Regions from separate parts of the Homo sapiens genome. Here region 1 is linked to region 2. The links come from fine-mapping of genetic effects on gene expression. A gene starts in region 2. The other region holds a variant in brackets. All regions are shown on one strand. Distances are from middle to middle.

Region 1 (4,385 bases), 34 kb after region 2:
AGACCAGCCTGGCCAACATGGACAAACCCCATCTCTACTAAAAATACAAAAATTGGCTGGGCCTGGTGGTACACGCCTGTAATCCCAGCTACTCGGGAAGCTGAGGCAGGAGAATCGCTTGAACCCAGGAGGCAGGGGTTGCAGTGAGTTCAGATTGCACCACTGCACTCCAGCCTGGGCGACAGAGCGAGACTCTGTCTCAAAAAAAAAAAAAAAAAAAAAAATGTGAGAACCACTGCACTGTGGTAGCACAGAGGTAGCAACTGCCAGAGGCACTTCTGGTGCTGCAACTCAGACTTCGGTGGCACGGGCACTGACTGGCTGTTGCTCTTGTCTCTGAGCAGGGCTCAATGGGGCTGGTTCACCAAGTGTTGGAAAAACTGCAAACTGGATTCCCCAGCCACTATGGGAAGGAACTGGTGCTGCTAGATGAAGAAGTGCTGCTGCCACTCCCCCAAAGACAGGAAGGGAGGGCAGGAGGGAGCAGGCCCTTCCACACCCACGCTGACAAGGCCTGCCAGTGCAGCTGGCACAGCAGAAATGGGGTGTGCAGAGGCCTGGCCCCAGCCCCACAAAGCAGAAGAGAGAAGGGGGCTTTGTTGTGAAACAACAGCTTGAAAAACTGGCACGAGTTATATTGGCATTGTCATTACACTTTTAATTTTTCACAGCTAAACTGGTAATAGCAATTTATAGTAACAGGTTTTACACGAGTCACTGTGGTGTAACACATGGAGACATGTAGTCAGCCCACTTTGTTGTTGTTGTTGTTTTGGAGATGGAGTCTCACTCTGCCACCCAGGCTGGAGTGCAGTGGCACAATCTCGGCCTACTGCAACCTGTGCCTCCTGGGTTCAAGCGATTCTTCTGCCTCAGCCTCCCAAACAGCTGGGACTATAGGCATGCACCACCATACCTGGCTAATTTTTGTATTTTTAGTAGAGATGGGGTTTCACCATATCGGCCAGGTTGGTCTCGAACCCCTGACCTCGTGATCCACCCACCTCAGCCTCCCAAAGTGCTGGGATTACAGGCATGAGCCACCACGCCTGGCCCACTCTTTTTTTTTAAACAAATCCACTCACACCTACATTCTGTTCCTTTAGGGACAGAGACCCAGCAGAGCATGCGCAAGAGGACTGCTCCTGTCATACACCCATGTCACTGACAACATAAACATTTACGATCCCTGGTGTGTCCCTTTGGGTTCAACACCTGCTCACACTAGCTCCACACCCGGCCCCTTGGGACCCCCTCAAAAACACTGGTCCTGCAGGGCAGCAGGGAGTTTGCATCAGAAAGTGCAGTTCTTACCACAGTTCTTCAGGGTCAGGAGAGGGTGGTTTGTAGGCAGTGGTTCTGGGCTCGTCACATCCAGTCCAGCAGCTGCAATCTTACCACTGGCCAAGGCCTGGTACAGGTCGTCCTGGTTTACGACGTCGCCCCTGGGAATGACAGTGGTGACATGGGTACCCCGAAGATCCCTCCGCCCAGGCCACCTTTGAGGCAGAACAACCTACAGAATGAATTTTTCCACTCACTTGGCACTGACTTTTAAAGCAGTAAGTCTTAGGTATACTTACAGTATGTCTGTAAGTCTTATATACTCAGAGAACTCCAGCCCTGCCTCCTTCTAGCTGTGTGACCTTGGGCAAGTGTCTCAAATTCTCTGTGCCTCGAATTATCTGTGTCTCAAATTATCTACTCTGTGAGATAAGGAGAATACCACCTAACTCCCAGGCATGTTGGGAGGATTAAAGCTTTCTTACATGCTCTACTGCATGAACAGGGCCCAGAAGGGCATCTGTGTTAGGCCCCATCCAAGTGTTTCTGATCTGGTTGACCCCCAGACCCCCACTGAGAAGCACCACAGTGTGCTATCAGGTACCTGTCTAAACCAGGGCAGAGGAACGAGCACACCCCTAACCACAGCCATCAAAGGGAGCGGCGACTGAAGGCAAGAAGTCATCTTCTAGAGACTGTATATTGTGCACTAAGTAATACTTGTGCACTAATGAGTAATACACGGTCCTGGGCTGTCCTGGGTACA[T/C]GCAGGCACCCAGTACACGGCAGCTGTGACTGCTGCCAGCCAGCAGTGCGAGCCCTGTGGTCCTGCATGTTTCACTCTTCCATTCCCAGGTCACCTGTTTTGTAGCTAAATGTTGGTAATTACAGGTACCTTTGGGGTGGACGAGTCCTCAGGATGACCTCACCCAATCCCCCTTCCCCTAAACTGATGTAAACAGGCTCAAGGGGCACCAGCTAGGAAGGGCTTGGAGTGGCAGAGAAGGAAGGTCTGACCTCCATACATGCCCAGTGGCCTGAAGGCACCCCTAGGGACAGTGTGAGGAGCTACGACCACGTGAGTTTTAGGGTCTGTCCGCCCAGGAGCATAAGGTTCAAAGTATCACTGAACCACAGCCAGACAAAGCCAGGCTCAGCAGTGTGGGAGGCGGCCTCCAGAGGGCCCTTCAGATCCTCAAGTCCAGCCCTTTGTGGTGGAGGATAATGGGCCTGCAGAGGCTCCCTGGGAACACTCCCTGAAGCCACGCTGCTGTGTGCCAGGCCCCGCCGGGTGGGGGCCACTGCTGAGAAGCAGACAGGCCAGGCCCACTCTGACGGCTCTTCTTCCCTGTACGGAGGTCTCGTGTATTCCCACGAATTTCTGAGTTGGTTGTTTGGTTTATGGAAACCAGCAAGCTCAGCCTGGGGTCTCACCAACAACCCACGGGGAAGAAAATCTCCAGATGGCAGCAGTGGGGATGGCTCCTCTCCAGGCTTGCTGGGTAAGGTGGCCCTAGGATACCTGCTGATGTTGATGAACACAGCTGTTTCCTTCATCTTCTGGAAGAAGTCCTTGTTGCAGAGTCCCTCGGTTGCAGGTGTTAAGGAGCAGGCCACGACGATGAAATCAGATTGGGCAGCCAGCTCAGGGGTAGACACTGAGGGAGGGCAGGACTCCATCAGGCACTGAGTCCCAGGCTAGGGACAACCAGATGGCGGGAGACCAGCCCCTTGCTCCCGACTCCCTAACAGAAACTCCCAAGATGCTTCCTGAAGGCCGAGTCTCTACCTGGACAACTCTCATGAGTGCACAAAGTCAAATCACACACAGTGGGATCTGGACCACTCTGGCTTTAACTACCTTCAGGGCCCAAAGTGCCCAGGGGCGTGGGGAATGCTTGAGATCCAGCCTGCCATCTGCTCACCAGGCTGTGGACCCGCCAGGTGCTGGATCCGCCTGGACTAAGGGGCGCACACAAAGGCTAGGGTAGTGCTTGCCAGTTTATGAAGGAAAAGACAGTGAAAGTGCCCAGCCCTTCCTCACACCCACCACCATCCCCGCTGCTCCGCCCACAATGGGGAATGGTAACAAAGGACTCTGAAAGACGGGAGCCCTGGACTGCTCTGCTGGCTCGGAGAGGACCTGGGTAAGTCCCTGTGCTCCCTGAGTGGGCCAGTGTCCAGGGGCAGGTAGATTAAACATCTACCAGACAGCAGCCCCTGGACATGCCTGGAGCTCCTGCCCTCTGCCTGAAAATGCCACCATTGAGAGAAAATACAGCCTCTCAACTGGGCACAGATAGGCTCCTGTGGAAATCAAGGCTTCACTTACCAAACTCTGCCTGGAATTCTGCTGCTTCCTCAGGCCTGGGCTGGCGCCCTGTGTACAGAAATCTCTGGACACCGAATGGTTTCAGACGCCGAGCAATGGCCTGGCCTAGAGCAAGGAGAGTCCATGTCTCGTTCCCAGTCCCGCAAAGGGTAGGGACACCACCCAGCATTTCTGGAACAGCGGCCCTCAGGGCAGACCCTTTTCATCAGCACAGCCCGAGTTGCCTGCTCCTGTCTCCTCCAAAGCGGGTGGGGGGCTGGCTGCCCCACTGTAACTAGCCCCCAGCCAGCCCACACTGCCCCAGGGATCTGGAGACAGCACCTCAGCTCCCCTGAGGCTGTGACTGGCTGATGCTGTCCTCACATGGTCCAAGCCATCTGGAAAGCCACTCAGGTTTTTCCTAACCTCTGAGAACTGGAGAGGTTTTCACAAGGGAGACACCTGGTCAAGCAGTCCCCTCCTTTGTCCTGGACCCTCTGCTTCTGTGAATGCAGTCTCAGACCCCATTTGACTTTTTGGTGGCACTGCCAAACTGCCAGCTCACCCCAAACTTACAATTTTCATGTAAGCTGCTGCTGAGACAGATTTGTACAGTTGGATTTTCAGGCTCAGAACGTGCCCCAAAGCTGTTGGGTTCCTCCAAGCAACTCTCTAGTGAGAGGCAGGGCTGTTCGTTGGCTAGACAGGTTCTCCACACTCTCCACCCTCACCCGCACCCCTGCACCAGGCAGGATGACAGAGAACCACCAATAGATAGCTGCTTGGCTAG
Region 2 (4,385 bases):
GGTTTTATTACTTTCGTTTTGTATCTATAGGAGCCTTAGTCATGAAGGAGCCATGATACATATTTATCAAATTTTTGTAATCTTCTTTAGTTACACATTTAGGTTTGTTGTCCACTTACCCCCCCCCCCCCGCCCCTTGTACTTACAAAGGTGTGGTAAACAGCCTTGGGTTTATTATTCCACATCTTTGTATTTCGGTAGCATATATTTCTAGAAAGGAATTACCATCTAGAAGGGAACAAATGCATATTTTAAATTTTGATAGATACTACGAAGTGATCGTCAAACAGGGCATCAGTGACACCCCCGTCCACAATATAGCGGGTGTCCACTTCCACACACTCCTAAATTCTGAATATACAATTTTTAAAACTTTTGCCAGCCTGTAAATCTGAGGCAATCTAGGTCATGGCATTTACCGTTGAGAGACAGATACGCAAAAGAATCTCTCCTATTGCCTGGCTTACTGTCATCATTCCATATTTTCCTTATTTTACCGATCAATCTGTCAGTAAAATATGTGTGATGGCTATAGTGTCAGCGAATCTTAAGGAAAAGAATTAAACATCAGACTCCACCGAGCCCTTAAAGAAATCCACGCAAACAGGTTGCTTTTTGAAATCAACACTTCCGACCAGTAACTGAAGGGATGGAATCTGCTGTAGGGGTATTCGGTGTGTTCCATTCTTAAAGCGGGGAGTTCCTTTTTTTTCCCCCCAGACGAAATCTCACTCTGTTGCCTAGGCTGGAGTGCAGCGGCACGATCTCAGCTCACTGCAACCTCCGCCTCCCGGGTTCAAGCGATTCTCCTGCCTCAGCCTCCCGAGTAGTTGCCTGGGATTACGGGCGCCCACCACCACGCCCGGCTAATTTTTGTACTTTTAGTAGAGACAGGGTTTCACCATGTTGGCCAGGCTGGTCTCGAACTCCTGATCTCGGGCGATCTGCCCGCCTCAGCCTTCCCAATTGCTGCGATTATAGGCGTGAGCCATCGCGCCCGGCTGGGAGTTCCATTTTTCTGGGAGCTCCTCCAAGACCCTTACCCCCACCCCCAGAAGAACCCAGCTGAGTTCGCGGGCCTGCCTTTGTCTCCAGAGCCACGCAGCGCTCCCAGACACGCTGCGCCGGAGAAGGCAGCTTTCTTCTGCCGTCCTCACCCTAGGAAAGGGGGTTTCTTCCCTGGCCCCAGTGTCCGATGCTCAGGGATCGGGTTCTCCCTCCGAGGGTGCACCTGGAAACCCGAGCGTCGCCCCGGGGCTCGCTTTTTTCAGACCGCGTCCCATACAAGTCCGCGACCCTTCCACGTTTGGGACAGGAGTGGGAGAGCTTAGCGCTTCCTATTTTTTTGTGGGGGGAGTGCAGGTGATTATAAATCTGGGCATGCAGACTACAGGCTTATTTGACCTGCAGCCGAGTGCGGGGCCAAGCGCCGGGCTCCTGGGGCGCCACCGTTTCCAGACGCGCAGCCACCCGGACTGGACGAGGGGCGGGGTCCGACCTAACTGCCATCCGATGGACAGCGTTTTTTATTCGCGGTTTTCACCCTGGACTTTGGCTTAGTTAAACCTAAAGAGCTTTTTGGAATCTTATCTTTCCCAACGTCTATGAAGTGGGAACTCAATCTCCAGCCCTCTACGTGTGTGTGTGTGTGTGTGTTCAGCGAAGGGAATTCACCCCGGAGAAGAGCCCTGGGTCACTAAAGCGCCGGGCACCACGAGGGTGGAAAAATCCTTCAGAACCAGCCAATGGCGGTACGGCCTGCCCTGAGGGCCCGCCTCTCCGGCGCCCTCAGACATCACGCAGTCGTTGTTGTGATTGGCGGATTTAGGCGGAAAGCCCGCTAGCCTAAACCACAGAGGGTTTTGATTGGTTGCAGCGAACAGCCGCATTTCTATAGTCCAAACCTGGAGCAGTTTAGTGATAAATCCCGCCCTAAAAGGCATTTGATAACCGTTTTACATGTTGTAAGGCAAAGGGTGATTGGTCAGAGAGCTCACGGATTCAGTCGGTAGTAAACACAACCAGACTTCAGGGACCGTGGATTGGTCAGTTTTTCCGGGGGCTAAGTAAATTCCTCCAGGTTCCGCGCGCCGGCTGGCTGCACTCCTACCCCGGCCCCGCCCTTCCCATTGCTGATTGGTTGCAGCCCAACTGGGAGAGGCGGAATGGGGCGGAGTAGGCGCTCTTGCATTACGTCACTTCCGCTTATCCTCGGGCGCCGCCGCCGTGTTCTCAGAGTGCTGCGGCGAACTGGCTGGAGGAGCTAGGGGACTAGAGGCGGGGTGGGAGGGGGGCGGGTGGAAGGGGGAGGAAGTCCCGTAACGGAGACGCTGGTCAGGACGTTCCCACCTCCTCTGACACTGCCGAGTCCGATCGGAGAGGGGTCACCGCCTCCTTCAGCGAGGAGGAGGGGGGCGGAGCCCGACTCAGGTGAGGAGACCCCGTCAGCGAGTATCGTGATGGCGGGCGCGCTCACGTGGGGAAGGTTGAGCACCAGGGGCGCGCCAAGGCGTCGGGGAGCGCGCAGACGTGTACTGGTGCCCCCGGACTACTCTGGCTGTCTTTCGGAGGGGAGCATTGTTACCGTTGGAGCCAAGGGGCCAGGCGGGTTCTTCTGCGCAGGCGTCCCCGGTGTCCCGACGCCAGGCTGTCTGCGGGGTGGGGCGGGGGCTGGTACTCCTGTGGATCCCCGGCTGGCGACGTAGGTTCCCGAATGGGGTGGGAAAGGCCTCAGGACCAGCGGCCTGGCGGGATGAAGAGAGGATCTGCTGCCCTGCGGGATGTGGTCGGACGGCTCCCTTGCCCCCATCCTGGGTCTTGAGCGACGAGGTTTCATTTCACCAGAGCAAGGCCATAGGCAGACTGCCATCGGGAGCCAGCGGCCGACCCTGGAGGGGTGGAGCCAGTGTTTCGGAATGCCCCAACTTGTTATGAGAGGACTGAAGTGTTTAATAGGCATTTATTGAATGCCCACTACTCCCAGGCTTCGTGCGAGGAGCTGTGGGGGATGCGGTGGTAAGACACTGCCGTCCCATCTTCTCCTGTTTGGAGGACAGATTTGTATGTAAATAATAAAAGGCAGTGAATTAAGGGGTGTTGAAGGTTAGTTTTTTCCTTTCATAATGGTCATTTTTTTTTAAGTCAGTCAGCATTCTGGCATAGTGAAGGATATTGTGGAAACTAATTTTCTGAACAGAAGGCAAATCCTAAATAATTTGGAGGAAAAATTTTAGGTGAAAGCACAGTAAAGTTGATTACTAAGTAGTATCTTCTGACTCTAGTTAACTTGAATTAATAGAAGGAACTCTTCACCTTCAAAAATTGAAGCAAAAATATTCCAAAACATGTTCTCATATTTTTCACTTGTATTAAGTAGAGGACATTACGGGCTTTTCTTTAGAGGTTGAAGAGAATGCTGTGCCTTAGTCATTAAGTCATTGGTAATTTGTTGTCCTAGTATGGGCTGTTGTGCTTAGATGTAAAAGGCTGGGCAGAACTTGCTTTTCATTTGCCTAAACTCTTGTGATTTCTGTGGGGACGGTGGTTGGCAGTAAGCTAATAGTTCAGAGGGAAAAGTCCAGATGGGAAGAAGACAAGGAATTTTAGAGAAAAGCCCCTAAGCCAAAGGAAACCGTTCACTCTTCCTTTTAACCCTTATGGAAATCTCATCAAATTTGGGAAGATTGACCTGGCCACCACAGCCAGCTTGGTGACCTTACAGGTAAGACTACTTGGGTGGGGACCTGTTTTGGGCCCTTGGGTTTTGCTGAATAAACAGACTCTTTTTTTGAAGAGTCCTGAAGTCAACTCGTTTACTAGAGATTTGCCCCTTTTCCCTAAAAGTTGTGTCAAAACATAACTTTTAGTTAGCTGAGGATGCTGGCAAGCTGGATTTTGGTTAATTGATATGTCTCTAGCAGAATTCTGAAAATGGTAAGATTTGGAGGAAAGGCATCTTACAGACTTAGGAGCGAACGCTCTCAAAAGAGACTCACAAGACTGTCCCCAAAGTGGAAGTAATAAAAAATCACTGGGATATCAAATAGTACTTAAAGAACTCAGCATGAATTATATCGAATTGGAGACTTTAAAATATCTTGTGTTCAGTGAAATTGACAAAACCTGGTGTAGTGCTGACAGAGAATCTTGAATCTGGCTCACATTCGTTTTGGAAATGGAAAAAAGAACCCAAGGTATTGATTCTATGTTAGCTTTCAACTTTTTTTTTAATGTAAATTAATTTTAAATACTTTCCCCCTCTGTCAGTTTTAAGCGTGTGATTTTTCTTTTACTGTACGTAATATTTCTCAAATATGGATGTTGTCTAGTAGAGCCAGTTTTGTTAGTGTAGCAGGTGGGATGGAATGTAGCACTACACTATGCCT

What was found. PIP is the estimated chance that this variant, and not a neighbour inherited with it, causes the effect.
Region 1: its variant is fine-mapped to the expression of ZBTB5 in whole blood (INTERVAL, PIP above 0.99).

What each region holds. Positions count from the first base shown.
Region 1 is chr9:37,429,068-37,433,452 of GRCh38, reverse strand. It overlaps GRHPR (glyoxylate and hydroxypyruvate reductase), which reads right to left. Exons shown (of 9, transcript NM_012203.2): 6 at 3,617-3,721; 7 at 2,807-2,942; 8 at 1,315-1,445. Among named protein-coding and RNA genes, the nearest start is that of GRHPR, 8.6 kb to the right of the region's middle. The variant T/C (reference allele first, on the strand shown) is at 2,051.
Region 2 is chr9:37,463,260-37,467,644 of GRCh38, reverse strand. It overlaps ZBTB5 (zinc finger and BTB domain containing 5), which reads left to right and starts at 2,195. Exons shown (of 2, transcript NM_014872.3): 1 at 2,195-2,430. RefSeq lists enhancers at 530-1,215, 1,216-1,901, 1,902-2,587, 2,588-3,273 and a silencer at 2,268-2,367.